Linked DNA regions of Homo sapiens. The protein of the gene in region 2 purifies or fractionates together with the protein of the main gene of each other region. This does not show direct contact. Each region holds a gene or a part of one and is shown on either strand. Other genes may lie near its edges.

Region 1 (8,278 bases), on a different chromosome or scaffold from region 2:
AGTGTTAATGTTGACAAGACTCTCTGGATACTTGAGGCAGCCTTGGAGGAAGAAGAAACACAGATAAAATTATTTTCATGACAAAAAATGCTATTTCTGCTTACCTAATGAAGAAATTTATTTAAAAACTACTCAACTACTCAAACCTTCTTTAAATAAAATTAATCAATATTAATCTTATCTCTGGCTTTGCAAAAACACAATATACATTTATAAGAACACTTCCTGGTACTTTTTATGTATACCTATCAGTTTGGAGACCATGTGTATGCCAAATCTTCTATAGCTTAACACAATTGGAATCAGGCAATGATTAGTTAAGGAGTTATTGAGTGCAAGATACTAACTAAGTTCTATGTGGACTATGGAGATAAATAGGACACGGTGCTGGCTCCATTTCCCTGAGCTTATGTTTTAGTGCCTTCAGTAAGGATTCACTTAGCCATAATGAACCACTTTCCTTTAAGGAAATCCTTCATAACTCTACACAAGGGAGAATATAAACATGCATATGGTATACTACCATACCCAGACTTACTTTTTCAAGATGAAATTTTCATGATGAAATAACAGGTATTTTTCTGAAAAGTGAGCCTGTCTAAAGTTATATATCTTCTTTTGGCCTTTCTGACATGCTGTTTCAGAATTTGAAAGTGTTCTTATGTTCTTGAATTGTATACTCCACTTAATCTAAATCACCAAATCAGACCATGCCATTTCCTTGATTAAAATTAAGGTCTTTACATTACATGCTAAAGTTCAAAGTCCTCTCTGTGACACATAAGGGCATTCATGACCTACTTCTCTAGCCTTACATCCCTCTACTTTTTAATCCTGTAATTCCAAGACCAATTCCCTGCAACTCGTTGTTCAATGCCTTTCTTCCTTTTCTTATGTTGTTTGTCTCCCCAGGATTAATTCCCCACCCTACACAGCCCTATCCGTTCATCAAGACTCAGCTCTGGTACCATCTTCTCTGTGAGGACTTACCAAATGCCACATACTCCCCTCCCTCCCAGAAAAGCAGTAAGTGTTCCCCTGCTCCTTCTCTGTATCCTCATAGCATCTTATGTTTACCACTCTATCATAACTGACACTACTGAAATCATCTCTTAAGGTTAAAAATAATTATTAGAGTTAATATTTACTGAACCCTTACTATATCTCTGGCACTGTTCGAAGCATCTTCCATTTATTAAGTTTCTTTGTTCCTTTATAACAGTTCTATAAGGCAGATTCTATTGTTATTCTTATTTAATACATGAAGACATGGAGCCACTAAGGGTTAACCTGTCCATGGTAACAAAACTGGTTAAGTGGCAGGGAGAGAATTCTAACCCAGGCAATCTACCTCCAGGGCCTGCACTGTTATCACATCAAAAGTCCTCAGGTAAAGTCTGTTTTCCCTAATGAATATATACGTTTTACAAGAAAAAGACTGCCTCATTTATCTCTGTAGTCCCAGTCCCTAGCACATGGAATAAGTTCAGTAAGTATTTATTGAACTGGTTTGACTCACTTAACAAATATTTACTTCAGATTTTACAAATAAGTTATTCAAGTATTTAAATACGAATTTATTCTAAAATGGAGATGGAGGATTTAAATTTACCTTTACATAATATACAAAAATACAAAGTTACAAAGTGTTAAAGACATTTTTCACCAAATCTCATAAAACTAATTCATTGTAATTGTGGACCTGACTACACATAAACTTGTAATTAAGTATTTTGAAACATACCTTGTTTCTGGGTTGTACCTTGCAGAAAAGCAAATATAGTAAATAGAAGTTGCCAACACTGAAGAGAAGATTAACAAATCTGAGCATCCCAATGGAGCAGACAACATGTTCAGACCATCCAAAGATCCAAATGGCAGGTTTGATCACTCCAATTGACACCAGGTACAAGCCAGGTAATGTAGTAATCATGGGATCCCACTTTAAAATGAAAGAAAATGAAGTAAAAGCAAGAGGTAATAGGAACAAGACAGGCACAAATATGTCAAGCCCAAGTCTCATCTCCAGCAACAATCAGAAATTTTGAGAAGTTATTCTATGACAAGATTAAGTAAGTCCTTGGCAGAACAGGATTCGTTTTTCTTATTTTTTGCCCCCGGACCAGCTTAGTGATGGTTCAGGTAGCAGCAACCAATAAACAACAACAACTTAAAATCTATTTCTATTTTCCAAGAAATGTTCTTTAAAAGCCTTTATTTTGATAAATAAACTGCAAATGTTCCAGTTTTTAAAAGCATGGAAACATTGTTTGGGACTCTTAAGTTTAGGAAAACATTTGGACCACAGGCTCCATGATGACAGCTAACATAAACTGAGACAGAAATTGTTGCCAAACCCTCTGTATTAACGTTACAATATGCCCTATAGTAAAGATTATTGTCATTTTGCAGATGAGTAACCTGAATTTCTGAAACTCAGAACATCTCCAAGATCACAAAACTAGTAAATCACAGCACCAAGATTTAAGATCAGATCTTTCTCTAAAACAGACTTTATATTTCTAGCCAGTACCCTATATTGTGTCACCAGAGAAGCAGGGGATGCTTATTTTGATATTTATATGTACATACTTGCACAGTCAAATATATACTCAAAAATGATGTGACTTGACTGGTTGCCAGTTTATCCAGTTAACAGTTCACTAAAAATACCCAGGGAAGGAATTTGTGATTATAAATTGTCACTTTTTGGTAGCTGAAGATCCCTCCAGTCCACCCTATCCCACCCCTAAAATGCACAGTGAGGTGCTTGACAGGTGAGCTAAAGGAAAGTTTTCTGGTATTTCCAAGGAGCACCCGAATGCCTTTAATCCTAAAACAAGGAAAGACAAAGTGGGATCGATATCGTCAGCTGCCAAGAGGAGGGCTCAGTTCCCCGTTGAGTATTCTCCCAGATCACTCCTTCCTGGAGGACAGATCTGCTGTTTATTCATTCATTTAATAAATATTTCACAGATCTCAGAGACAGGAACAAAAGACTATACCCAGTTTCTTTCATGTTCTGAGGCTTGAGGGGGTGGAACAGGACGAGTGAAGTCTAAGGATGGGAGGACGTGGGGACGCTGGGACCTCTCAGGCCTCTCCTGGGGTGGGGACAGGTTGGGGACCCCACCTGGGAAAGGGAGAAATGGCCCTCACAGTAGCGCTGCGCCTGAGGCAGGTGGAAGATCTCGTCCATGTAGGGCTCTCGCAACGCCCGGCTGAAGGCGGAGAAGAGGAGGCAGGATACTAAAAAGGTACAGCTCAAGGCGGCCGAGAAATAGTAACCTTCCAGCTGCGCCATTCCAGCTCCCACAGCCACTGCCCAAGAACCTACTCCTGGAAAATTCTGAGCCTGGAAACCCGAGCTGGAAACTTGGGCTCGAAATGGGCGCGCTAGGCGGGACTAGCCAGACGGGGCCACATACCGGAAGGCAAAGGATGCTGGGAGAGCGCGGATCCGGAAAGATCGGGTCGCTGTTTCCCGGAGTGACGGGTTTAGATAACGGACCGGATGATTACCCTCTCAATCGCATTGCCCGGGGCGCACAAAGTGTCAAAACTTCCGGAAGGGGCGGGTCTCGGATTTCGCCAGCGCGGGAGGTGCGTGGCTTGCTGCTTAGAAAAAAAAAAAAAAAAAAAAAAAAAAAAAAGCCGCTTCTTAGCTTGGATCTTTTTTCCTGCTCACTTCCATCACTTACCAGAAGGTGGCGACGTTTCCCCACGTTTCCAATTCCAAGCCCTAAAATGGACACATTTTTTCCCCCGTTATTTCTGTTATTTCTCTCCAGTGATCCGAATTAATTAAACCCTCAATTCCAAGACATTTCATTCCATCAACTTTGGAGTGTAGGAAGGGTGCGTTGGTTGTGATAGCAAAGACTGAGAGTTTTAGATGAAAACTTGAAGAACCAGAGACCCGTCAATGCCGAATGAACTTCAGTGAGAGGAGTGTTTGTTCGTTTGTTTGTTTAGGTTAAAAGAGAACTCTTTCAAAATGTGGATGCTCTCAGAGGATTTAGTTAAATTGACATTCCTAGTGCACTTTCATAGTCATATTACCCTGTAGGATTTGGAAAATACATATATATTTTAGAATTCGGGATGTTTTAGGTGTGCCTGTAAATTTGGTTGTTAATATCTGTAAGGCAGCCTTCTGTTTTTCCTACTAAATCATAAGCGTGAACATCTTAGTGGGTGGCATTATACATCCTTTATGTTTGTAGTCCCCAAAATGGCTTTCACACAGTAGGCACTTAAATTTGTGGACTTTTATAGGCTGTGTAGACATCATCAAATTCCTGTATTCTGGGATTAGGTGCTGGGGGCAGGAGATGAGGTAAATAATTTGAAGAATGCCGAAGATAAATTATGTGTTGTAATTTTGTCTTGAGCATGGTTGGCCATGTTTTGTAGAAAAACTATTTCTCAGGTAACCTCAATCAGGTTGCCTTTGGCAGGAATATATCAGAATTTAGGCGGGATTTAAGGTTGCAAACCTCAGAGTTCTCAATTGAGCTCTTTTTCTGGGTTAAAACTAATTCAGTATTTCTAAACTTAAGAAAGTTTCTTAAATTAAGCTGACTGCCTTTCCATTCTGTCTCTGCCTGTTTCCTCAATGATAAGAGGAAGTAGTGGTGAATGAGGGCTGGGATGGGAACATTTACATTACTGGAATAAAGTCATGTGAGGATCCTACTCTGATGTGATGCTTAGCTTTGTTTTAACCATTATCTCCCATTTTATTGTTGAGTCCATGCTGTACTTATCTGTTTAAGTCACTTGTAACACATCTCCAGATGATTCAGTCTTCAAGAGGTTGATGTGATCTACAAGTAATTAGCTCCTGACCTGTTGACCTGCTAAATCGTGTTATATATACTCTGCAGCTTACTGACCCACCCTAGAAATAGTGGGTCGTTTTTAAAGGGAGTAGAACAAGACTAGACATTTATGCTCTCCATTTTTCTTCATAACAATTGCCACCAATAGTTTATGTTAAACATTTGACTCCTATACATGCTGCACACATCCCTTTACATAAAATGGAAAGTTTCAAGGAAATATGGGGTTCTAGAATGGGTAGGGATCTTTATTAATAATCTACTTGACTTCATGTTATAAAAGAAGTTGGTTTTAAAAAAATGAATGATTTACCTAAAATTACATAAAAAATTAGTGTCAGAACCAAGTGTAGGAATTAGAAAATCAGACCAAGAGTAATAAAATAACTTCATAGCCTTATAGGTTAAAATAATCTACAATGTATACTGAACTGAATGTTTCACTAGTCCCAATAACTTTACATTTACATTCCACTCTCCTCTGTTTCCATACACCAAGTTGAAATACAAGTTTCATCTTTTAAAAAAATGTTCATGTTACAGACTAATTACATCAAAATCTGCTGGGGGAACATTGTGAAAAACTAGATTGTAGAGAGCCATCTCAAATCACTGAATAATAATCTTCATATTTGGAAACGATTGATGTAAAACATATTACCTGAGAATGCTAAGAAGCTCCATGGGCCCAGTAGAGTTCTTTGTAGAGTACTTCACTCGTTTGTTAGTTATTTTTACTATCTGCAAATCGATGAAGCTGTTGTCACTTTTCTACTCTTAGATTACAACATCTTTGATAATCTTGAAATGCTTTCCAAAGCTCTGCTCCTAAATCAAGACCTATTAAAATAGCTACCTCTGGGGTTTTAATGAAATAGATTACATATTATTAGACCTATCATTTAAAACTAGATCAGCATTAATTTCAACTTACATTTTCCATTCAGAATTCCAACTGCCATTTTCCATAGATGTTTGTGAAAAAGAGTCATTAGGATGAGCAATCCCATTGTCATTGCACATCAACTATTTATTTGTGCTACTTGAATTATGATAAGTAAGTTATGGCAGAAAAATGGGCAATTTCTGTTGGGGTTCTAAGGATAGGTTGTTTTAGCAAGAAATAAATCTTTTTTGTTTATAAGCCATTAAGATTTTGACTTTATTTCTCCTGTATAACCTAGCTTACTTTGATCAATTAAGACATTCCTAATTTGATGAACTCGCATAACATTGCATATACTTAACTGTTTGAAACAGCCATATCTGAACAGTGAATTTCCCCAAAGGCTGTAACTGTAATAACTTTGAAGTATTAGTCCAAGAAACACCCTGCCTCTTATTGCACCCCTTTTCACTTGTTGCTGAATGAAAACATTGGCCACTTGCTAATCAGAGTGACGGTTTACTCCTTTCTAGGTGACAATTCGTTCTAGCTACAGCAGAGTACTGCACCCTGGGCCAAAAATCACAGATGATAAGCTCTAAAATGCAACTATACCCTTGAGGTCAATCTTAACATATCAATTTAAAATCTATATTTTAAAATTAATGAATCAATTAAAAAAAACACACACATTTTAGTACAAAAGCATTAGCAAGTATTTTAGCTCTACTGAAAATGTCTTGAAGACATTGTATAGGGGACTGGTTAAACCTAAGTAACACACACACGGAGAGACCCTTCTAAAAAACAATAATATTTATTTGGGATTGAGCATTACAGTTAGAATACAATGAACATAGGGAGGTAAAAGAAGACAAGGGATTTTAAAAGAAAAATGAAGAGGGTTACATAAATTGCTTTGAGACAATTATCCTTGGTTACAAGGACTGGTAGAAAGGGTGGCACCAGTTTGAGGTTGGACAGGCAGTTGCTGGGCAAATGTCCTCACAGAAGTAATTTTTTGTGAGATTGTGGTGGCCTTTGTGCAAAGTTGTGGTTTGTGCAGTCTTTTGTCGTAGTTCCTGTTGTCAGGCATACACGCATATAAACCCTCCCTTTCTGGTCTTCCTTAGCTCCATTTTTCAGGGTTTTTATGCAAGTGGCCCCATTTTGATTCTGATAACTTTCATAGAACAAATCTTTCTGGTTTGTGGCAGACTTTCCAGTTTTACCCTTGAAAGTCTCAGGCCAGGTAAATTCTGTAGTATCAGACAAAGAGAATGGTTGGTGATATGGTTTGGCTATGTCCCCACCCAAAATCTCACCTTGAATTATAATCCCCATAATCTCCATGATCCCCATGTGTCAACAGAGAGACCAGATGGAGGTAATTGAATCCTTGGGGCAGTTTCCCCGGTGCTGTTGTCATGATACTGAGTGCGTTCTCATCTGATGGTATTGTAAGTGTTTGATAGTTCCTCCTGCATTCATTCTCCTTCCTGCCATCTTGTAAAGAAGGTGCCTTGCTTCCCCTTCGCCTTCCGCCATGATTGTAAGTTTCCTAGGCCTCCCCAGCCATGCTGAACTGTGAGTCAGTTAAACCTCTTTCCTTTATAAATTACCCAGTCTTCAGCAGTTCTTTATAGCAGTGTGAAAAAGGACTAATACACTTGGTCATTTAGAAAGATATACCATACAACCCAAAGCAAAACTTCCTAAATATTTTTTTATAACAGTGGTTCCTAAAGTACCACAGCATTAGTATCACCTGGGAACCTGTTAGAAGTGCAAATAATCAAGTCTTGCCTTAGACCTACCGGAAAACAAATCTGATAGCAGAGGGAGCCAAGTAATACGTGTTTTAACATTCATTTTGTAATCAATTATGATTCCCTTAGATTACCAAGTGGACCTGATGGACCTGAAAGTTTGAGAATACTGCTGTCCTCTACATTTCCCTTGCTTTTCTGATCACTCATGCTGCTTTGTCCCCTGGCTTCTCTGATTCTTCATCTCCAGGCTTCACCCTACCAAGAAACAAAGTTCATTGCCAATGAACATATAGACGATGTTCCTCCTCAGCAGCTGAAGAAGAGGAACTTAAATACTTACAATTTAATGGCTTTTAGTTACATATATTTATATTCAGACAGATGTCTTTTCTTTCAAAAGACTATGTGAAGGGGAACTTTGCTTTTTGCTAAAATAAGCAGCTGAAACACCATAGTCCTACAGCTATTGCTGCCAGTTAGATAAGAAACATTCTAGGAAAAGAAAGAGAATCATAAATTGATTATTAAATGAACTGGGCTATTATACTGATGAAATTACAGTACTATTAAATCAACCAAAGTAAAAAGTTAGAAGAGAAGACATTGAATTAACTTTAATTCTTAAATAATTTCACAGTTTAAGAGACGCAGTAATATGATCTTACTAATTTTAAAATTTCAGACGTTAGAGTGAGATTTATGATACAATTGTTATTACTGAAAAGAGGGAGGTTTTGTGAAATATTGAGGAGGGTTTCTGGTTAATTCCCTTTTGG
Region 2 (7,489 bases):
AGGAAGCGAATGCATGAGGCCCTGGGAAATGAGTCTGGGCTAAGCAACAGCCTGTGCTTGCCCGCTTACCAGTTGTGTGTCCTGGACACTACCACTCTTCGGCTGTCTGGACCTCAGTTTCCTCATCTGCAAAATGGAGAGGTTGGCCAGCTGATTCAAGGGCAATGTTAACTTTACTGTTTAGTTTCCACGAGGGTGGGCATCCTGGCCCATGGGCTCCAGGGGCTCTCAAGACTCAGCCTGTGGATATTGAGCTCCTCGGAGCCTGCAAACCTGCCCTCCAACCCTCAGTGCAAATCTGTCAAGCCCAAGTCCTAAGGCCTAGGATCCAGCTGCAGCCACCCTTCTGCTGGCTCAAGCCCATCCAGCTTCCAGACTGCACTCCCAGGTGCATTCCCCATGTATTTCTTCTGCTGCTACTTTCTTCTTCTTTCTTCTCCTTCTCCTTCTTCTTCTTCTTCAAGACAAAGTCTCACTTTGTCACCCAGGCTGGAGTCCAGTGGCATGATCTCTGCTCACTGCAACCTCCGCTTCCCAGGCTCAAGTGATTCTCCCAAGTAGCTGGGACTACAGGTGTGTACCACCAACCTGGCTAATTTTTGCATTTCTTGGTAGAGACGGGGTTTCACCATGTTGACCAGGCTGGTCACGAACCCCTGACCTCAAGTGATCCACCTGCCTCAGCCTCCCAAAGTGCTGGGATTACAGGTATGAACCACCAGCCTTGGCCCTCCCCATGCATTTCTATGGCTGCCTCCCTTCTCTGTGCCCACTGCCCTCATTTCTTTTTCTGGTGTTCAAGGGCTGTGCTATTTGAGACAGTTTCCTCCAAAAATGACTCTCCCTAACAGGAACTGTCTGCTAGACTCCTGGTCTTCTTCACACATCCACTCTCCTGCCTTTGTCCTTGCTGCTTCCTCTGCCAGGATCATACTCTTCTGCCTGGTGTAAAGGACACTCCCCTCCCTCCTTGTGTGCCCACATCCTCCGTTACTGGGGAGGGAGGTTGTGATTTCAGGGCTGCCTCCTATGGTATGTAGCCTCCTTGGGACGGAGGCCCAGGTGCCAGAATGGGCACCTAAAGAACACTTGTGGTTCTTCAGTGTTATATTTTAATGGTCTCAGCTTTATTATGCCTCTGTTTCTTTTCTTTTTTGAGACAGGGCTGTTGGCCAGGCTGGAGTGCAGTGGTGCGATCTCGGCTGACTGCAACCTCCACCTCCCGGGTTCAAGCAATTCTCTGGCCTCAGCCTCCTGAGTAGCTGGCATTATAGTTGTGCACCACCACGCCTGGCTAATTTTTGCATTTGTAGTGGAGATGGGGTTTCTCCATGTTGGCCAGGCTGGTTTCAAACTCCTGGCCTCAAGTGATCCTGTCTCGGCCTCCCAAAGTGTTGAGATTACAAGCGTGAGCCACCACACGCAGCATTTTTTTTTTCCCCAGACAGGGTCTTGCTGTGTCACCCAGGCTGGAGTGCAGTGGCACGGTCATGGCTCACAGCAGCCTTGACCTCCTGGGCTCAAGCAATCCTCTCACCTCAGCCTCTCATGTAGCTGGCACCACAGGCATGAGCTACCACACCTGGGTAATTAAAAAATTTTTTTTTTGTAGAGACGAGGTCTCACTTTGTTGCCTAGACTGGTCTCCAACTCTTGGGCTCAAGCAGTCCTCCTGCCTCGGCCTCCCAAAGTGCTGGGATTACAGGCATGAACCACCGCACCTGGCCTATGCCTCTGTTTCTAAGTGTCTCTAAGTTTTATGGTTCTGTGACCACTGATCTTCCACCCTGCTTTCCCCCTTGGTGATGAGAAAAGAACATTAATGGAGGGATTGGAAGGACTGAGAGATAAAACTAGAGGCTGAGGGGAGGAGTTCTTTTCAGATCTGACACCAGGGAAAACTTGAGATTTGGAAACATACTACTTGTACTTGGGAGGATGAGGGTGGGCTGTGGAGAGGGCTGCAGAGAGGAATCTGATGGGTGCTGGGTCCCTTAAGGGCATTCCTCCTGCCATAACTCATGTGCCTCACCCCAGAGTCCCCTGCTGGACATTCCACAGCTGTGGGTGGGGCCACAGATCATCTCTCTCACCCTCGGGCCTCTGGTTAAAGTGCTACCATGAGGGTGGGGGTGTCACACATTAACTGGTAGCACCCAAGCACCTGGCAGAGTCAGCTTGCCCTTTTTGACAAGCACGCCCCAGGGGCTCAGAGTCAGTTTCTGGTTAGTGTCAGGTCAGTGTTAGTTTCAATGGGGTTTGAAAAGGCCTGGCTGGGGGTGGGGAGTAGGAGTGAGTCCCTGTCTCTAATCCCCAGGCTGGGGCCTAGGAGGAGGAGCCAGGGTGGTCACTGGATCTCAGAACTGCAGTAGGGGCCAGACTCTGGCCCCACCCCTGCTGGTGTGGCAGCCCCAGGCTGACAGGCCTCTGCTGCAGCCATCCCACCGTGAGTAGGGCTCTGGCCAAGGTACACAGACCCTGGGGCCAGGGTGGGCATCAGACACCAACAAGCAAGGCAAGAGGCTCAGCTGTCTGAGCAATGCAGCCTGGCCTTCCTCCCTCAGAAAACCCCTTGGCCAGACCAGGGGTTCTCTGGGACTAATGGCTCACATCTATTTCTGAGTCCTTATATTTCCCCAGTGCTTCATCCCAACACTAGCCCCAAAGTCAGGCTGCATCCAAGCTTAGCCCTGATCCCAGACTGAGCTCTATCTCCATCATGAGCCCCAGCCTCAGGCTGAGTTCTTATCCCAGTCTGATTTCTAGCCCCTGGCTGAACTCTGACCCCAGGTTGTGCCTCCACCCAGCCCTCAACCCCAGACCTCTCTCGGCTTCTAGGCCCCTCTGGAAACTTTTTGAGGCAAGAGCCCAGTAGGGGAGGGGATGGCTAGGCCATAAGTGAAGCGAGGTGCCACTTTTACAGCCATTTCGGCTGCTCATAAACACCCCCTGACACCCAGCTGAGTCGCTGGAGGCTCCCATGGCAGCTGGCTGGGTAGCCCCCTTCCCTTGCAGCAGAAGCATGGCTGCCTGGCTTTCTTGCCTCTCAGGAAGGTGAAGGGAGGGGCGATGGGGGCACCTGGGGCCAGCAGGCTCTGTCCCAACCAGGGAGCACTCCTAAGGCTCCCAAGGAGCTAGAGGTATGGGCTTTCTGTCCCTGCTGGCCTCATGGTTACAAGCCCCCTGCTGTCATAACACCAGGTCCACAGATGTGTCTCCATGCGGGCATGTCTTGTCTGCCCCATAGCACGGCCCAGGTATTTAGACACTCACCCCCAGGGAAACCACAGACTTGGGCTTCCCAGCTGTGCTCAGGCCCCTAGGCTCCCCTGGCCCCCACTCACCTGCAGCCCATGGGCCTTCCAAGTCGGGCCTAAAGCTGCAGAGCAGACTCAAGTTGGCCACGGGGAGGCCATGGATAGTCCCTGAGCAGCTTCTGTGGCTCAGGCCTAAGCAAGGATAGTGCTGCTGGGGACAAGAAAAGACCTGAGTCAGAGCTTCCACTTGAAAAGAAAATTAATTATTTTTTACCAAGCCCTACACTGGCCCAGGACTTTGTCCCAGGCTCCTAGTCAGGAGTAGGAGGCAACAGAGGCAGATCCAAGTGTGCCGGTGTTCAGATGCCCAGGGCTGGGCCCTCCCCTCAGCACCCATGGGTCTGCCTGCCAGGTAACTGGGCCCACTCAGGCTGCCAGACACGTGTGTGTGCCTCAATAGTCCTCTCCTTGCCCTGCCATGCCTCTCTCTTAGTCTCTGTGTCCCTGTCTAACCCTCTGGTCCTTTCCACATCTCAGGAATATCAGGCTGCCACGAGGTATGAACACAGCCCCTACTAGTGACTTCACTCAAGTTTAAGGCACCCAGAGAAATCAGAGGGGGGCTGGAGGTGGTTCTTGCCTGTGTCACAGGCAGGAAAACTGAGGCCCAAGAAAGCCTGATCTGCCAGCACTGGGTACCCAGTGGCTCCTAGACGGAAGAGATGGAGGGGGCCGTCATTCCACTCCAGCCCGTGTCCTGACCCCTACAGCCCCACAGCCACCTCATATCTGACTCCTTGCCCACTGGAATGTGGGCTCCTGGTGAGGAGTCAGCCAGGAAGCCCTCCCTATCTGCCTCCCAGGCCCTTCCAGGCCCAGGGTCTGCTTAAGCTGTCACAGGTCTCAAAGGCAGGGGGCTGTGGACAGGATGACTTCTCTCTGTGGGTCTGTAGAACGAGCTGTGTTCAGAACCAGGGCTGGTTGCTCAGGATGAAGATGTGGGCAGACAGGGAGGCAGAGACCCTGCAAGATCCCAGAAACCTCACCCCCAGGCCCTGTGACCCGGCTGGAGGCTGCCCTTCTGCCTGAGCCCAGTCTGAGCTGGTTTGTGTCTGGAAGTCCTAGGCTCAGCCTGATGAGGTATAATGATTCACGTGGCAGCTGCCACTCAGCACATTCCAGCTGTAGCCCCCAGTGCCCTGCATGTGAGGCAGCTGGCCCCAACCACCCCCAGCCATTGGGCACATTCCTAGGGCCCCCCTCCCTGGGTCTTCCAGGCTCCTGGGGAGGGTACCACTCATTAGAGTTTCCAAAGTACTTTTTGTTTCACAAGTTAGTCAGGGAGGCAGGCTCGGTGATACCTGGCCTCCAGGTGGAGGAAACGGGACCAAAGAGCAGAATGGACTGGCCAGGGGACATAGTGAAACTATGACAAACAGCACTTATGGGACTCCTGCCCCAGCTACTCTGAAGTGCACTGCTCCAAGGGGTATCCTGGGACACGTAGGCTATTCTGTGACCAGGCCAGCGGAGGTCAGTGGGCAGTTGTGCCCAAAGGAGGGAGAGTTCCCCTGTGCTCTGTCAAGCCTCCCTGTTGCCCTGGCTCTTGACTGCCAGAGCCTCTACCTCCCCTGAGTCCACATGCACTGCCCTACCCTGCCCACAGGCCCCATCCTCACTGGCCAGGGAAGCAGGAGGCTGGGGCCTTTTCTGCTTTGACCTGTGGATCCCTGAGCCAGACGCCTTCCTGCTCATGGCCTCAGTTTCCTGATCTGTTGTTAACAGTTGGGCAGTTTCAGGCTCAAAGGGGATCTGTAAAGTGCCCAGGCACTTGGGTCTTGGATGCAAGCAGACCTGGGAGTCTGAAAACCTGAAGGCCTTTCTCTCCTCGAGCCTTGGGCCTGCCAGTTTGCGTTCCTCCTGTGGGCCCCAGCCCAGGGCTCTGGGGGGCAAGTCTGGCCCTCAGCTCCGGGGACAGGAAGTTGTATTTTGGTCCTGGGTTCTGGGGAAGAGGTAGGGGGAGAATGGCAGCTCAGACCCAGCCATGTTTACTCGGGCCCGGCCCCCTCCGAGCTCAACAGGCTCCCATTCATTGGGAGACCCATAAACCCTTTGGGGCTCCCTGAGGTTCAGAACGCCTGGATGCCAAGGCTGGATGCCGCCCCCAGACCTGCTGGGAGCTGTGGGCAGCAGGTGGGGCATGAGTGAGGCATAAGTGGGATGGTGGGTGGGAGCCTGAGACTCGCCTGAGTTTCCAGGTATTTGCAGCGTCGTAACAGTTCTTGCCCCATGCACATTGTGGAGCAGTTGGGAAATCCAGGGAGGTGGTGGAGGTTGAAGGGTTCCTTCCATGGCCACGAGGCCATCAAAACTGATTTCTCTTAGATCAGGCCCCAGAAGGGTGTCTCCTCAGACTAGGCTCCTGAGGGCATGTCCTCAAATTGCATGACCCTCAAGGCAAGGCTGAGACTGCTGTGTCCAAAGCGGAGCTGATGTCCTTGCTGAGGCTGCATACCTGGCCTTGGGTTGTTGACAGTCCACTCCCTGGCAGTGTGGGCATGGGCTTGCATCCCACTGGAGTAGGGCAAGTCTCTGGTCTGTTCCTCATCTGTTCAGCAGGAGGTCTTCACCGGAAGGGGAAGCACTGGGATTGGATGCTGAGGGATGGGGCCCTCAGGTCTGCATCCCTCAGTGTTGCGTGTTGTTACCTTTGTGCCCATCTCTGTGCTTTCTTTGGGTGAGTTAGAGCACCGTCCCGTGGTCCCTGGAAATGGAAGGGAGGCAGCAACAGTGTTCAATGGGAAGAACTGTGGCTTGGGGGTCCAAATCTTGTCCAGCTTTCCCATGACCTGGTAACAATTCTGTCCCCACTCAGGTCTTCAGTTCTCCCTGCCACAGACGGGTTAGAGTGGACTCTCTCCAAACCCACCCCCAGCCCTGCTGTTCCCAAGGGCAGCTCTGAGGGAGATCCCTGGTGGCATGGTGGCGGGGAGTGGGGTAGGAGAAAGGCCTCCCCACCAGATCCCCTTTCATCAGTGCCCCCACATGCCCGGGCAACCTGGCCAGCCACTGGGGACACTGGTTGGGGGTCCAAAGCGGGTCCTGTTTCCCAGACGCCTTCTGGGTAGAGTGTGATTTCCCGCTCCAGTGGTTGTAAAATCCCCAGAAGCCTAGTGCGTCCCTATTGTGTGTGTGGGGGGGGGTCTGTGCCTCGGAATACCCCCTCCCAGGCGTGTTTGACACGTGTTTCCGCCTCTCCCTGCATGGGCTCCCGCTGCTGCTATTTATAACCTTTAAGAGCTCCTGCCGACTGCAAAGTTTTCTTAAACTCAAAATATCACCGAGGTCCCGGGCACGCGTTCCAGAGGCCGGCTGGGCCCTGCGGTTTGAAGGGAGGAGGGGGCCAGGAAGGAGGAGGTGGTGGGGAGGGGGTTAGCTCAGACACTGGGTCCTTGCCGGGGGCTGTGGCCGGGAGCCCTCGAGTGGAGAACCCCTAGTCCTGACACTCCTGCCCTGTTAGGCCTGGAGGAACCCTCTATGTGGGTGGTCCTTTGTCGTGCCTTGCCAAATCTCTGGGCCTCAGTTTCCTCTCACTCTAAATGCCTCAGGGGACACTGGCTGGGGCAAGGCAATGAGCTGGCGGACACTGGGAATGTCTCTAGGGCTGGAATCAGGGTTGTGTCTGCCTGGCCATCCTGCAGGCTGCACCAAGCCTGGCCCAGAGGCACCGTGGACATTGGCTGAACTGGCTGGAGAGGGGAAGCACTCAGGGAAGTTTATAAAACCGTGTATGGGAAAGCGACATCCAGAGAAGGGCAATGGCATGCCAGAGGTCACCCCGCTCATCCAGAGCAAGTCTCCAGGCCTTCCGACACCCGTGCCCTCTGAGGTGAGCCTCTTTGGAAGAGGCCGAAGGGCTCTCACTGGGCACAGGTGGGTCGCCAGTGTGGAGGAGGTTCTGGGCTTAACGGGAGGTGGCTAGGCATAACTCAGATGCCTCCCTGAAGCTGGAGGGGACACTGGCAGCTGGTCTGGCCCAGTGAGGTCAGGCCTCTGCCCAAAGTCACACACCCAGCTCCTGCCTGCCCTGACCTCTGCTCTATCTCTGGGGCCTCTCTGCCTCCCGGACTAGTCATGATCTTTTTGGGGAGGTCAGTGGTCTAGGCTTCCCCCAGTCCCACTGCACTCCTTTCCTGAGCTGGTGTGGGGGCTGTGGAGGCAAGGGACTGGAG
Region 3 (7,549 bases), on a different chromosome or scaffold from region 2:
TTGCCCATAGCTCGCCTCTACAATCCAGGCACCACCAGAGCTGCTAAAAAGACCCAGAAAAGAAAAGCTTCAGCCAGACAGGGTGGCTCACACCTGTAATCCCAGAACTTCGGGAGGTGGAGGTGGGAGGATCGCTTGAACCCAGGAGTTCAAGACCAGCCTGGACAACATGGCGAAACCCCATCTCTACAAAAAATACAAAAATTAGCCAGGCATGGTGGTGCATGCCTGTAGTCCCAGCTACCTGGGAGGCTGAGGTAGGAGGATTACTTGAACCTGGGAGGTGGACACTGCAGTGAACCCAGATGGCACCACTGCACTCCAGCCTGGGTGACAGAATGAGACCTTGTTTCAAAAAAAAATAAAAAAAAGAAAAGCTTCAGGGACCGGGAGAGGAGCTGGCCTGGCACATATCAGGTGCTTGGTTAACCTTCACCAGTGCCATCCTTTTCTCTGACACAACACTCACGGTCATCTTAGGAAGAAAATGAAGACGGGGGGCAATACCAGCAGCCGCTCCGCCTGTGAGCGCTCACTGCGAGCTGGGCTCTGCCCAAGGTACTTCCCGGGAAGCACTGCCCAGACTCCGTGCAGCCTCAAGCCACGGTGCCTTTTCCTGCTCTTGTAGCCCTTCCCAGCTGCAGAAGCAGGTCTGAGAGCCCAGTAACTCCCACGGGAAGGGCAAAGCTAACGGGAGGGGCTCCGCCTCGACTGGCCAACCTCGAAGGCTGGAAAGGACCTATCCCTGCAGCTGGGACACTTCCCCAGATGCACCAGGCTCCCCAGCACACCCGCCTCCCCCCGCCCCACCCCTGGCAGCCCTGACTTGTCCTTCCAAGCTTCACCCTCAGTCCACATCCTCAGCGGAGCCACCCCAGGTCCTCCAAGCACTTCCTCCAGACTCAAATTCTGCCCAGCCTTTGAGGCAGCCTTAGATGTGGCCAGTCAGCTTCCCCATGGGACAAGAGACCTGGCCAGGTGCATCTCAACCTGCTGGCCCTAGCCTAGCAGGCACAGCAGGGCAACCTGGGCAAGGGCACCTCTCTCAAGATGGGACCGGAAGGTGGACCAGGCCATGACCTCTCGGTGACCTGGGACTGGGAATGTCCCTCTCTAGACACAGCCTCCTTCTTGATGAAAGGGGGGTGGTCTCACAAATCCTTGCCTAGGAGTGGCTGGGAGGGCAGAAGGAATGACAAATGACAGCTCCTCTGATATGTGGTGTGGACAGGATTTCCTTTGGAGAAGGACAGCCAGGGCCTCGTGAAACTACTCCAGAGAGAACCTAGGTGGCAGGCTCACCTGGGCCCCAGTAGGCCACCCACCGAGCCCAACATAGGGAGCACCAGGGTAGATCCTAAGAAGGCACGTGGGAGCCTGCACTGTGATCAGCAGGCCACCCCACTCCCAGTACGCTTATTCTGAGCACCACAAGCCTCAAAATTCCTTTTTTTTTTTTGAGACAGTCTTGCTCTGTTGCCCAGGCTGGAGTGCAGTAGCACGATCTCGGCTGGCTGCAACCTCTGCCTCCCAGGTTCAAGTGATTCTCCTGTCTCAGCGTCCCAAGTAGCTGGGACTACAGGTGCCCGCCATCACACCCGGCTAATTATTTTGTATTTTTAGTAGAGATGGGGTTTCGCCACATTGGCCAGGCTAGTCTCAAACTCTTGACCTCAAGTGATCCACCTGCCTTGGCCTCCCAAAGTGCTGGGATTACAGGCATGAGCCACCACGCTTGGCCAAGCCTCAACATTTCTGCCATCTCAGAGAACTGCAATAACCCCCACTTCTCAAGGGGTAAGCTGAGGGACACAGGGAAGAAACATTCCAGGCTGATCAGAACCCCCATTCCAGGGCTCCTTATGTACCCCACATTGCCTCACCAACCCCCTCCCACCCCCAAGAGGTCTCAAGATCCTCAGGCCTGGCTCAGAGCCCCCAGGCTAAGGCAGGAAAGCTCTGTGGCTCAGGGCCAGCCTGGGTTCAAGGCCTGGCTTGGCCATTTTCTTCAGATTCTGGAACCTCTGCAAGCCAACTTCCACATCTGTGAGATAGCAGGGCCCCTCTCAAAGGGTGGGGGACTCCACCCAGCTCAGGAGAGATGCCCAGCATAGCGCCCACCCGTGGTAAATGTTACTGCTCAAGCAGCTGCTCCCATGATGATCGTTAACGTGACAACTGTTAGCTCTACCACTGCTCTGTGCTGGGTGAGCTGGGGGCAGGGGCTGGTGGTTTCAAAGGCTGGCCTCTGCAACTGCCCACCTGCCCCATACTCACTGCCCAAAGCAAGCCTTCCTTGCCTGGGCACCTATCAGAGCCATATGGGCACAGAGGCCCCTGCAACCTGAGGTCTGGCAGTGGCACCTCAGGGGACACTTAAACTCTCTGAGGCCTCAGCTTCCCTTGGACAAAACAGGCTCCCAACAACCCAGAAAGGGGGTACTGGGGCCTCTGGTCAGCGAGCGCTCACCCGCAAGGGCCCTGCTGCCCGGCCACACCTGCCCACCGTACCTTGACATAGTAGGTGATGAGGATCTTGCGGAGGTCGAAAACCTGCAGCATGGAGGCAGCATTATTGTCACTAATGCTATAGCCCTCCAGCACGTACTTGCTGGCTGTTACCTCCCAAGCCAGCCAGCGCTGCCCAAAGGCAGCATTGAAGGACAGGACCCGTGGCAGGTGGCCAGGTTCACAGCAGCAACAGCCCTCGTCCTCCTCCACACCCTCGGTGATAGCCTCCACCTCGCGCTGCTGGCAGTAAGTGCCTGTGGAGGAGGGGTGTGCAGTCAGGGGCTGCTAGAACAATCCCTACCTGCCCTGTCCTGGGAGAGTGACCAACATGGCATCAGAGGCCTGCTGCCATTCACCCCCTTGGACGCCAGGGGAGTCAACCTTATTGGATGCCAAGATTCACGAAAGAGCGCCTGCCTTTCTCCTCCCAACTCCCAGCATCCAAGGGCAGGGCGGGAGGGAGCAGGGACACGGTCTGGCCCCTCTGCACTCTCGGGCATCCAACACACACGTCTTCCTGAGAGGAAGGAGCTGGCTCACTCATGGCGCCCAACCCATGGGCCAAGCCTGAGACCACAGAGCAGGCTGGGTGTGAGAACTCAGACCTCCAGGCCCAGGCCCTCACTGCAGTGACCTGTAGAGTCACTGGGACCTAAAGTTGGGGCAGGCACAGGGCTTGGCCAAGAGACCCTGCCACCTCATTGCTCAGACTGGGAAACGCAGGCCCAGGGAGGAGGAGTGCCTTGCCCAAGGCCACCCGCCAGCCTGGACAGAGCTGGACTGGACCTCCTTCGCACGTGCTATTGAACACAGCTCCCACATCAGGCCCGAGCTGTGCCTGCCCACCCGAGCCTGGTCCTGCGGCTCACCCCGGAACTCAAGGCCACGCAGCTGGAAGGTGACGAGGCCATTGCCAACCTCGATGAGGTGCACCAGGGCGTTGAGGTAGTCAGAGGCCAGGACGAAGCAGTCACCAGGGCCATAGTTGCCCCAGCGGCCCAGCACCAGGTCCCCACACAGTGTGTGCTGCAGCGAACGTGTCAAGTGCTCATAGAAGATGGAGTTGAGGTTGTTGTCATCAGCGCCTAAGACCCAGAACAGACGGGCAAATGGACAAAGTGACAAGTTAGCGAGGCTCCCTCCCCAGGGAGGCCCTGCCCTAAAGCCCCTTGGATGGCTGGGTACACACCAGGGTTCCTGTCCAGCTGTGTGACCAGGCGGGTGTTGGAATGATCCACACGTTTAGTGCTGTTCAGAGAGAGTGCAACAAGGCGGTTGGCCAAGAAGGTGAAGAGAGGGTGCACCCTGCTCATGCTCTCCCTGTGCCACAAGGTCAACGCCATCCAGGACAGCCCCGTTATGCAGGCAGATGAGGAGACTGAGGCTCAGGTACATGAAGGGACTCACACAGGACACACAGCCAAGAAGCTGGGAGGCTAAGCTCATCCCCAGACCCCACTATCCCCAAGCTGTGAGCCTGAAGCCTTGGCCTGGTGCAGGCTCTCCCTGCATTGGATCTGCCGCCTCATGTGTCCCCACTGTGACCAAGCCCTCCCATACCTGCTGTGGGCCCCTCTGTGGGTGGCCTCCAGCCTGGGCTCCAAACCTCTCCCTTCCTGCCCTGCTGGGCATGCTCCCGCCTCCTGTGAGACTCACTTGTAGTCGCGCTCCCAGAACTTGAGGGGCCGAGCGTAGGACATGATGAAGACGGCACTGCCTAGCAGTGGGTTGAGAGGCGTGGAGAAGAGCCCCGAGAGCAGGGCCTGGACGAACAGCATGGCCGAGTCTGAGCCACAGTCAAGGAGGCGGCGGGCAACAGGACCTCCCAGCCCCCCACCACCCCCCACTGCCCCAGGCCACAGCCCTCCCTGCACACCCCCACCCAAACACAGGCTGGATACGTGGCACGGCAAACGGCTGGGCAAAAGCGTGGAAAGCCGAGCCCCAGGTGATCTGCCAGGGCGCGATGTAGGTCAGCACGAAACGCAGCTTGTACAGCAAGTCCCACAGCTGGCAGGGCCAACAGGGAGAAGAAAAAAGACATGCAGGGTCACTCATGGAAGCCCCCGGATGCCAGGCCCCATTCAGAGGCTTGGGTCATCGCACTGGCTTGGCCCACGGGGGCCAAACTCAAGGTCACTGCCAGCCCTTGTGCTCTGGACATGGCTCAAGGCGCCTGATGCCATTAGCAACCCCTGCCTGAGCTCAAAGGGGGCGGTGGCCATTTAGTTCACACAAGTACCCTGTGAGCTTCTTATTCCTATTGCTGGCCCCTTTTCACAGATGGGAAAGTTGAGGTTCAGTGAAGACAGAGAAGATAAATGACTTCCTCAGGTCACGCCACTAGGTCACTGGTGAGGCTGAAGCTAGACTATAGTACTGAAAATTGAGAACAGCCACAGGCCCTGCCCTCAGAGGGTACGCAGTGTGGATGACCGCCATCCTGGGCCAGGCCAGAAAACAAGAACAGAATGCCCACGTGAGGAAGAAAAAGGCTCAGGCCTGCCTGGGGTTCCAGGTACCACTGCTGGCCTCCAGTAGAGTGTAGGAGCATGGTTCCTTAGTTCAAAGAGCCCCCCAAGCCGTGGCAATGCCACAGCCGGCAGAGCACCTATACACACCCAGGCACTAGGGGCTTCTGAAACTCAGCTCGGACTGCTCTGGATCCAGGGTGGCAAAAGAGCGTGGAACTCAGAGGTCTGCGTCCAGAGGATAAGGCCAGGTCCTGATTACCCTAACCATTTCTGAGGAGGTGGTCGTGGGGTCAGACAGGCCTGGGTTCAAATCCTGGCTGACCACCAATTCTCTGGAAGCCTGAGGCAAGTCCCTCAACCTCCTTCAGCCTGCTTCCTCTCTGTAGAGGGTGGAAGTAACCCCTTCCTTGAGAGGCTGCTGCAAAGGCCCACGGGGCTGATACAGAGCGGTGGCCACAGGCCCTCAGGAAATTCTCTTCCCACCCAGGCAGAAGTTGGCTCTGCTCCCATTGGACAGCCTGGGGTCTGGGCCACAGCCACCAACTCACCTTGCTGCAAAGCAGGGACATGAGGAAGTAGTCAAGCAGAAAGCCCTGGGAGAGGCGCGGGTAGTCAAAGTGGAAGAGCAGGACGGTGAAGGCCAACGTCAGGTACTGCTGTGGGGGGCAGCAGAAGGCTGAGCGCAGCAGCTTCAGCCCAGCCACGGTCATCAGCAGCGCCCGGCAGCTGTGGGCAAGGGGCAGGCATCGGGTGCTTGGTAGGGGACCGGGGCAGTGGGTATAGGTGTCCCATCCCTCGCCTACTCTGGCCGGAGAGCAACCCCTGGCCTCTGCTCTGCTGGGCTGGTCCCTGCTCTTTTGGGCCCGTGACTCTTAGTCTCTGCTCTTCCAAAGGGAGTGGTGGGAACACATTTGCCTTTGAAGAAGCAACCACTTCCTGGGATGGCGTGTCAGGAGCTGGGGTCCTGCTTTAGCTTGCTAAACAACCTTAGACATGATTCATTCCCTCTCTAGGCCTCAGTTTCCCCACGGATCAAAAGGGAAAGCGGATGATGGGATCGTTGAGGGTGGGGTGGTCCTCACTAGAAGCAGTACTTGTCCGGGTGGCTGACGACTGTGTGGGCGTCCACCGTGAGGGCGTTGAGCACCACGGCGGGGTAGATGAGGTACTTCTCTACGCACTGCAGGCCAGCATACAGCTTCTCAAACCACATCACCTGGGCGGCACCTGTGTGGAGAGGCCAGGACTCTGCACCTGGCTTCCACATGCCTGCCTTCCCTGAGGAAGTCCTTCCCTAGGAGGGCAGGCTGTGCGGTCCTGACTCCTCGGAGACCCTGGGGGGAGGGGCTGATCTGTGGCAGCTCAAATGGGAGCAGCGAGCCCCAGCAGGGCAAGGGCTCCACATGGCACTTAGCACATCGAGGCTTGCTTTATGGCAGGTGCTCTGCTCTGCTGTCTGTTAAAACAAGGCCAATGATGAAATCGCAAACACCTACGTACAGCAGGCTGGCTAGGGCCTGAGTGCACAGTGAGCCCGTGAGCTGGGCCCTTCTAAAGGGCAGACCCCTCGGTTCAGGCTGGTTGTAGCCACAGAGGGATGCTAGTCTGGGAAGCAAAATCTTCTGTCGTTTAAGAAAAACTCAAGAAACATGGATCTTCATATCTCAAATCGAGATGCTAAAATAGAGGCTCCAGGATTTTTTAAAAACCATTATGCAGCCCAGTGAAGATGTGCTCCAGGCAGCTCTGGTCCACTGGTGATCAGTGTTTAATTCTGGACAAGAGATCCCTTCAGGGCCCTGGGGTTCTAATTCTTCCGTCTTCTCACAGACAGGAAGGAGGGCAGGACCAGGGCAACACAGGCAAGGGAAGGGCACAGCAGGGCACGAGGAGAAGAGTCGGTGGAGAGCGCAGCCGGGCAACACGGACACAGAGGGCAGGGAGGGAGCAGAAAGGGTAGTGTGGGCAGCGAGTGCCCCCTGCTGGCACTCCTGAGCCGAGAGGACCACAGCTCCCACCAGCCAGGCTGCAGCCCGAGCCACTGCCCAGGCCTGGCCATCAGGGGTGGGCACTCACCGCGCACTTCATACTGGCTGTACTCCAGCGGCTTCAGCACGGGCTGTGACAGGCAGAACCAGGGCAGCTGTTTGCGGAGTTGTGGCAGCAGGTAATGTGTGAAGAAGCCCACGGCCCCAGCCAGTGCGTACAACACGAAACCCAGCACCGACTGCAGGAGGGAGAGGCCAGAGACTCAGCTGATGGGAGCAGGCCAAGGGACCACAGAGGGCCACCTGGCACAGGCCGGGGAGGGGCTGCCCACGGCACTCAGATTGAGCAGGCTCCCGCCAAGACAGCGAGAGGCAGCAGCGGCCCATGCCACACAAACCTTCAGGGCAATAAAGACGGTGCTGGCGCTGATGGCGAAGGTGAGCACGGCGATCACCACACACATCACCAGGTCGGAGTGCAAGACCTCACGCTGCAGGGCCAGGAGAGACATTCAGCTGCCCGGCCAGGAGAGACACTCAGCTGCCCAGCAGCCCAAGCTGGACATGCCCCTCCCA
Region 4 (7,549 bases), on a different chromosome or scaffold from region 2:
TTGTGGAATAGAAGCAGATGTTCTTTGTTTCCAGGGGGTTTTCATGGGTAAACTCAGAGGAGCGGGGCTGGGGCTCAGACTCCCCCGTGAGAGATGAGTTATCCACCTAGAAGAAATGTTGAAGGTGGTTCACAGCTGGGTACCTCATTCCCTGCCTCTTATACTGATGCTGGGAAAGACCCCAGAGCCAGCAGGTTTGGAACATGGTCCTTGGGGTGGATACCCCTTGCCGCTTACCCGACACCCCTGAGAAGACAGCACCCTGATGTCTGCAGGGATCTGGTCTCCTCCTTTGACCTCCACAATGTCCCCCACCACCAGCTGCTCTGAAGGGATGGTCTTCTTCTCGGAATCTCGGATGACGAGAGCTTGCTGCAGAAAAAAACCATGACAGATGCCTCAGACCCTGGAAGGACACCGGCCCTCCCCCAAGTCTGTGCCGCACCGAACCCCAGGACAGAGGCCTTGGAACTTCCTGATCACTCTCACTGTTGAGTCCATGCTGTTATGCAGCCTGCACCTGGCCCTGTGGACACAGCATTGCTGCTGGAGCATGAGGCTGTCAGAACAGCAAGAATGAAACAGAAGACTGCTTCACCCGAGGCCTGAAGACTCTAAGAACTACTTTTTCTTGAGCTTATGGAGAGTTCTTGGAACAGAAGAGTCGCTGTTGGCCAGATCTGGCCAAGCCAGAGCCCTGGGCCTCCTAGAAAAGGAGACCACTAAGGGTGAGCAATCCTGGCTGGGCGTCTGGGCAGAACACTGAAGGTGGGGCTGGGGAGGCTGATAATCTTGCGAGTGTCAGGGAAATTTTAACGAGGTGATCTCCTGCTTCAAGCTTGGCAGGAGGCGTCTTTTCCACCCAGAATCTCTCCAGCCCACAGTTCTCTGGGCCAGAGACAGTGTGGACACCTGACAGGGGTTTTTGGGGAAGAAGGGAGCACTGGGCTTCCCCACCAAATGCATTCTGGGGCTCAGGAGCAAAAATGGTCACAGATAAACAATTGCAGGCTGGTCTCCTTGGCTGCCAGTGAAAGAACACTCCCTGACCTTCCACAGGTCCCTTCCAGAACCCAGAAGGACTATCCACAAACACTGAGGAGCAGGAACAGAAGATGCCTTGGGCTAACCAGCACTGCCCTGGGTGGTGCCTCATTTGACCATCAAAATCCTGTGAGGAACTGGGGTTCTGACAGATGGGTTAATTCGCCCACGATTGCTCCGACAGGGAAGGAAGTGGAAACCCGTAGCCCTCAGGGCCCTGTGCCCCTCCCAGCTGAGGCTTCCTCACCTGGGAGTCACCAGAGGCCAGAGGATAGGTGGCTGCCACTCACCTGAGGGATCATCTTATTGAAGCTGGACATGATGTTGGTGCTTTTTGCCTCTTGGTAATAAGCAAAGATCCCCGTTAAAATGACCACCAGACCAAGCACACAGCCCAAGTACACCTGGGTGAGAAGGAGGGCGTCAGTCAGAGAAACCAGCAGTGGGAAGCAGCCGGGCCCTGGGGCTAGAGCTCTCCACGGGAGGATGCAATGCTGGCAGTTACGCCCTGGTATAATTTACAGGCCATGGAATTCGCCCATGTTAAGTGCGCAACTTATTGATTTTTTTTTTTAAGTTTACAGAGCCATGACACCACCCTCCACCGCAGCCTCAGAGCATCTCCATCCTGCCTGGAGATCCCTCCGGCCCCTCTGCCGTCACTCCCTGCTCCTGTCCCATGCCCTGGCATCACCGATCTGGTTCCTGCTTCCAAGGATGTGCCTGTTCTGCACATTTCATGTCAATCCAATCCTATGACATGTAGCTTGTTGCCTCTGGCTTCTGTCTCTTGGCATCACGTTGGCCAATTCAGTTTTGTGGATTTGGTACTCATGTCTCGGCAGGCACAGCTGCTCTCCGTGTTAAAGGAAGAGGTTAGCTTGGGGGAGACAGAACCCCAAACTACTTCACATGGATGCAGATTTTCTCCCCCTTAAAAATTCAAGGTGTTTTGTGTATCCCTCTTCATGCCCACACTGCCTCTAGAAGATCAGAAAGCCAGATAGAATTTCTGTTTTACAGCTGGGAAAATGCCTGACTTTCCCACACCTAGGCAGTGGCATTCAGCCCCCAGCTGTGCCCCCAAGGCCTCACTGGATGGCTCTGCCAGCAAAACCAGGAGGGGACACCCCAGAGCCTTACGTTGTTCAGGGATGCAGACTTGTCGCTGGAGTACTGAATCCCATATGCAATCCAACAGAGAAAGGCGCCCACCCACAGGAGGATAGAGAACCCCCCCACCATCTGCTTGAGGAACTTGACGATCTCAGGCGTCTGCTTGGGAGGGGTGAGGGAGTTGGGCCCATCCCGGGCCAGGAGCTCGGCAGCTCTGGTGCTGGAGAGACCCTGGGAAAGCCAAACAAAGCACATGCACAACCAAAACAAATACGAATTAGACATTCCTCCTCCCTCAGGGGTTGGGCTGCATATTTTTGCAGCTTGGGGTGAGGCATTAACGTGGCCAAAGAAGGTCCCGAGAAAAGCAGACCGTGCCTCACTTCTCCAGCTGCCCAGCTTTTTTGAAAGACTATGTAATGCTTAATACCAGCCAGGCACTGTGCTCTGTATATTCACTCATTTAGTCTTTAAAATAACCCTTGAGGCAGGGGCCATTATTCCTCCCTCTCGTCATTCGCAGAGGTGGAATTTGAGGCACAGAGAAATTACGTAACCTGTCGAAGGGACCTGGCCTGTCAATGGTAGCGACCAGGTTCAACGTGGTGACTGGGTCCAGAGCCACTGCACTCTGCTCTGCTAAGGGGTTTTAGTTTCTTAGAGGTTTATCCGGTGAGAGGACTAATTTGATGAAGGAGGACTTGGAATGAAGAAGCTGCTCACCAGGGCTAAGGGCAATGCAGTAACTCCCCAGGAAATAGGGAAGCTTCTGGAATCCTGCACAGAGAGCATGTGGCTTTAGTTTCCATCCTTACGCCTGCTCCTTTTCCACCTTTCTACACATCCAGCCTAAGTTCTCATTCATCTTGACAGGCATAAATCCTACCCAAGCCCTGAGCCCATGTGAGCAGCCCCTGCCCTGGGGGGCCTGCCATCCGTGAGGCACCCTCACCTTTGAAACCCTACATGTTCACAGGAATTTCCCCCACAGACGATCTTTGGTGGACAAGTCTGTAGATACCTCTTCTCCCTAATTATGTTGTAAGCTACTTAAAGGGCAGGACTCTGTCTTGGTCTTTTTTTTTTGAGACAGAGTCTCGCTCTGTTGCCCAAGCTGGAGTGCACTGGTGCGATCTCGTCTCACTGCAACCTCCTCCTCCTGGGTTCAAGCGATTCTCCTGCCTCAGCCTCCCAAATAGCTGGGATTACAGGCAGCGGCCACCACACTTGGCTAATTTTTAAAATATTTTTAGTAGAGACAGGGTTTCACCACGTTGGCCAGGCTGGTTTCGAACTCCTGACCTCAAGTGATCTGCCCACCTTGGCCTCCCAAAGTGCTATGATTACAGACCTAAGCCACCATGACAGGCCAGTCTTGGTCATTTTTGTGTTCTCTCCCGGGTCTCATGCTTTTTCTGTGGTAGTGATTCAAATATCTGTTGAATGGCTAGATTCAGGCTCACCACCTCGATCCCATCTCCCTCCACTCCAATTCCTTTTCCAGAACCCCAGACTCATCTTTCTGAATAACTGTGGAACATTTCCTCAGGGGTGTTCCGGAGAGACTTCTCCTGGTATAACTCACAATAAGTTCATCATCGCCTCCACCCTCCTGCCTTCCCTGCTCTCACCTCCCTGCCCCCACCCCAGCCCATCACCCGACCGGCTCTCCTCCTCCTGCTGCTGTGACATGACTAGCGAGATGAGGGGCTCAATAAAAATCCCCGCAAGTCCTGCTGGTTGTGTCTCTCTGCAATTTCTTTCTTTCTTTCCTTCCTTCCTTCCTTCTTTCTTTCTTTCCTTCTTTTCTTTCGACAGAGTCTCGCTCTGTCGCCCAGGCTGGAGGGCAGTGGCGCGATCTCCGCTCACTGCAAGCTCCGCCTCCCAGGTTCACGCCATTCTCCTGCCTCAGCCTCCCGAGTAGCTGGGACTACAGGCGCCCGCCACCGTGCCCGACTAATTTTTGTATTTTTAGTAGAGACGGGGTTTCACCGTGTTAGCCAGGATGGTCTCGATCTCCTGACCTCGTGATCCGCCCGTCTTGGCCTCCTAAAGTGCTGGGATTACAGGCGTGAGCCACCACGCCCGGCCCTTTTTTTTTTTTTTTTTGAGATGGAGTTTTGCTCTTGTTGCCCAGGCTGGAGTGCAATGGCATGATCTTGGCTCACCGCAACCTCTGCCTCCTGGGTTTCAGAGATTCTCCTGCCTCAGCCTCCTGAGTAGCTGAGATTACAGGCATGTGCCACCACGCCCTGCCAATTGTTTGTATTTTTAGTAGAAACGGGGTTTCACTATGTTGGTCAGGCTGGTCTCAAACTCCCGACCTCAGGTGATCTGCCCACCTCAGTCTCCCAAAGTGCTGGGATTACAGGCCTGAGCCACCACGTCTGGCCCCTGTAATGTCTTTCGACATTATTTCAGATCCTCATTTCACAGTCCTGGGCTGTTGTTCCATTCTTCTAGACCCTTCCATTTCTCACTTTAAAAAAAGAATCTTCTATGAGAACTGCCTTTTGAAAACCAATGAAAGCACCTCCATGTGTGGAAACCATGTCCCTTCTGCCTCTAAGACAGCTCCTACTCATTAGTTTAATGTGAATACTTTGACAGCTTCACCCAGATGACCTTCCTGGCTTCATTCCTGCTGCACCTGTCCCCTCTCCACACATACTAGCTTCCGGCAAGCCCAGATTCTCTCCAAGCAGGCTCTGTGCTTACTGGCCCTGGGGTCCCCCACCAGCTTAAATCCGAAGCATTTTGAGTCCCAGCGCAAACATGGCAGCAGCCCGAGAGCTGGCTCTGGCCCCTTCCATCAGAATCCACCTTTGTCCCAGCATAGCGTTTCTACTTCTTGTAGCCATCCCAGGGGGATAGAGTGAATCTCAGGACACTTCCATACACATTTGCCTCCCCTACCCGGCCACTTTCTCCTTGAGGCCAGGGGTCATCTGTCCCTCTTGGTCCCTCTCACTGCCAGGCCAGTGTGAGCCCCACAGTAGGTTTTTCTGTTGACTTGAACTGTGTCCAGATGCAAATAACTGCAGTCTCAAAGGCGCTGCAGGGGCCCCTCCTCCTAAAGGTGCCGCTACTCTTCCACACAGCCCCCCGCCACACACAGCCTTCCCTCTGTAGAGTTGGGAGGCTTCTCTTCCAAATCCCTGGTTCCCACGACTCACCATAATGATGTCTGTGCCATATTTCTCTTCCAATTCCCTATTGCTGAGTTTGTGGTCATCCTGAAGTCCATGAAAGGAAGAACAGAGTGAATTAGATAATTCCAAAAGACTCAAGCCCCAAGCTTTGACCAGCCATGGAAGCTGGGAGTAGCAGCCCTGAGGATGGGAGGGGATCGAGGAGTGTGGGGGACAGGAGAGAAAGAACCCCTGTGCCAGGCAGCTGCCCAGCGAAGGATGGCACTGCCTCAGGAGTGACTGTCCCTGAGTCGGCACAATCCTGCACTTGCTGTTACTACCCAGAAGCTGCCTGCAGCTTTTCTGAACAAAGCCATGCACCTCGCTTCAATCTGAACTCCAGGGCATACAGGTTCTGGCACCCTCATCTTCCAGGTGCCAGTGAGCTGGAGGCTTCCCTCAGGCCTGAACCCTGGGATTGGCTGGGGCTGATGGCAAAACCACACTAGAACCGCTTCCTGGGCTGGCACAACTCCTCCTCCTTCGCTGTGTGGGCTCTGGCAGGGAAAAGCAGCTTCCCTCACTCAAGCTGTGACGCTCAGGGAGCTCACTGGGCAGAGAAACCCTGCAGGGAAAAGTTCTGCTGAATAAACCCACAGCATTGTGGCTGCCACTTGTGAATTCTGCTACAGAATCATTAGACTACAGCAGGGTTTCTCACCCGTGGCCCTGCTGCCATTCTGGGAGAATAATTCTTTGTTGTGGGCTCCACCCACTAACATCCTCCCCTCAGTTGTGGTAACCAAAAATGTTTCCATTTTTCCCCTGGGAGAGGGGTGGGGGAATCCTCTTCTCCTCTCCCTTTGAGAACCACTGGGCTAAAGGACAAGAAGTCTCTTCCTGTAGCAGAAAACCTAGGGTAAGTCTTCCTCACTCCCCCTAGAAAGTCCAGCACTCAGGATTTTTTAAACCCTGATTGTCTGAAACAAAGATTGATACTGTTGACTGGTGCTCACATCATCTCTTTTCTTAAGTATATGCAAAAAATAGTTCCATGTTGCAGTAAGAGACTAGGCCTTCCAATAAAGCAGAATTCATTATTATCATTATTATCTTGCTTCTAGCCCTCTTCTCAGCCAGATTCTGTTTTGCTCCTTCATCCCTTCTACTAATACTGATTGAGTGTGATATTGCTGGGGATTCAGAAGATTAAGGCTGTGTTCTGCACAGAGCACAGCACAACCCACTAAGTTTTGGGCAGATACAAGTAGTGGATGATCCGAGCCATTGTTTGCATGCATGGGACCTCAGACTTCCTGGGCTGGGGGATGAGAGCATGGGGGAGGGGTGGGACGAGGTGGTGGTGGTTATCTGGGGTGCCCTCTGCTGGCCAGCACTGGACTAGCACAGGGCAGCACCCCACCCACCCCTCGGGTCACTGCCTGGCCCTTTCATTCAAAGGCCGGGATACTTCAGTTGTCATTAGGCACTAATTTGCCAAGAAAGGTTGGGAGGCAAAAGCATTCAATATGCTGCTGAAAATTACAGGACCCTTGTAATGTCAAGGGAAAAACAGATATGTCTTCAATCTTAAATGCTAGAGATAATGGGAAATAATAAGAACGATCTATCGTCTGGTGCTGTGCTGTCTTTTCCCTGTTTTATCTCATTTAATCTTCCTAGTAACCCTTAAGAGGTAGAAAAAAAAATCTTATGTTTTTCAAAATAGGAAACTGAACTTCAGTTACACTGGGATTTGAATTGAGGTCAGTCCAGTTTCAGGGAAGCGTTCTTAAATGTCTCTCATGATAGATACGGACAAATGCCCAGTGGTATACTGTTAAATGTTTAACAAACTCTCCAGGAACGATCAATACAAAGCTCGGATTTGTAGAGTTTGCTGATTTCTCACTAGAACCAAGTTTGAAGCTGCTAACAGGATGTCAGTCAGCCTGCCAAGTTTCTGAATACTTAACAAATGGCTCTCTAGCACAAAAGAGACTCCCCTCAGGAGTCACAGAGCTTTAAGATCTGCCAAGGACGGTGGGGACAATCCAGCCCATCTCAAGCTCCGTGTAGAAGTTTCCCCTTCGGTGTTCCCAAGATAAAATCTGTCACATTTCAGACCCAAGGCAGTTTTATTATTAAAGTGGCCAGTTTGGGCTGGACACAGTGGCTCACGCCTGTAATCCCAGCACTTTGGGAAGCTGAGGCGGGTGGATCATCTGAGGTCAGGAGTTCGAGAGCAGCCTGGCCAA

The links.
Region 1: the proteins of PTH1R (region 2) and ALG10 purify together in Homo sapiens (affinity purification with mass spectrometry; 2 studies listed by BioGRID and IntAct, with this or other methods). This does not show direct contact.
Region 3: the proteins of PTH1R (region 2) and PCNX3 purify together in Homo sapiens (affinity purification with mass spectrometry; 2 studies listed by BioGRID and IntAct, with this or other methods). This does not show direct contact.
Region 4: the proteins of PTH1R (region 2) and ATP12A purify together in Homo sapiens (affinity purification with mass spectrometry; 2 studies listed by BioGRID and IntAct, with this or other methods). This does not show direct contact.

Annotation. Positions count from the first base shown.
Region 1 is NC_000012.12:34,017,626-34,025,903, reverse strand, and holds the start of ALG10 (dol-P-Glc:Glc(2)Man(9)GlcNAc(2)-PP-Dol alpha-1,2-glucosyltransferase), read right to left. Parts: upstream 3,409-8,278; 5' UTR 3,305-3,408; coding exon 3,134-3,304; intron 3,128-3,133; exon of another isoform or gene 3,006-3,127; intron 1,943-3,005; coding exon 1,745-1,942; intron 42-1,744; coding exon 1-41. UniProt on the Homo sapiens protein: Dol-P-Glc:Glc(2)Man(9)GlcNAc(2)-PP-Dol alpha-1,2-glucosyltransferase that operates in the biosynthetic pathway of dolichol-linked oligosaccharides, the glycan precursors employed in protein asparagine (N)-glycosylation.
Region 2 is NC_000003.12:46,873,699-46,881,187, reverse strand, and holds the start of PTH1R (parathyroid hormone/parathyroid hormone-related peptide receptor precursor), read right to left. Parts: upstream 3,468-7,489; 5' UTR 3,345-3,467; intron 127-3,344; coding exon of another isoform or gene 70-126; intron 1-69.
Region 3 is NC_000011.10:65,625,567-65,633,115, reverse strand, and holds part of PCNX3 (pecanex-like protein 3), read right to left. Parts: intron 7,490-7,549; coding exon of another isoform or gene 7,465-7,489; coding exon 7,372-7,464; intron 7,213-7,371; coding exon 7,062-7,212; intron 6,442-7,061; coding exon of another isoform or gene 6,416-6,441; exon of another isoform or gene 6,219-6,415; intron 6,213-6,218; coding exon 6,068-6,212; intron 5,712-6,067; coding exon 5,534-5,711; intron 4,522-5,533; coding exon 4,413-4,521; intron 4,298-4,412; coding exon 4,168-4,297; intron 3,760-4,167; coding exon 3,701-3,759; intron 3,597-3,700; coding exon 3,381-3,596; intron 2,766-3,380; coding exon 2,512-2,765; intron 1-2,511.
Region 4 is NC_000013.11:24,683,161-24,690,709, reverse strand, and holds part of ATP12A (potassium-transporting ATPase alpha chain 2), read right to left. Parts: intron 5,397-7,549; coding exon 5,337-5,396; intron 2,392-5,336; coding exon 2,188-2,391; intron 1,449-2,187; coding exon 1,335-1,448; intron 373-1,334; coding exon 238-372; intron 107-237; coding exon 1-106. UniProt on the Homo sapiens protein: The catalytic subunit of a H(+)/K(+) ATPase and/or Na(+)/K(+) ATPase pump which transports K(+) ions in exchange for Na(+) and/or H(+) ions across the apical membrane of epithelial cells.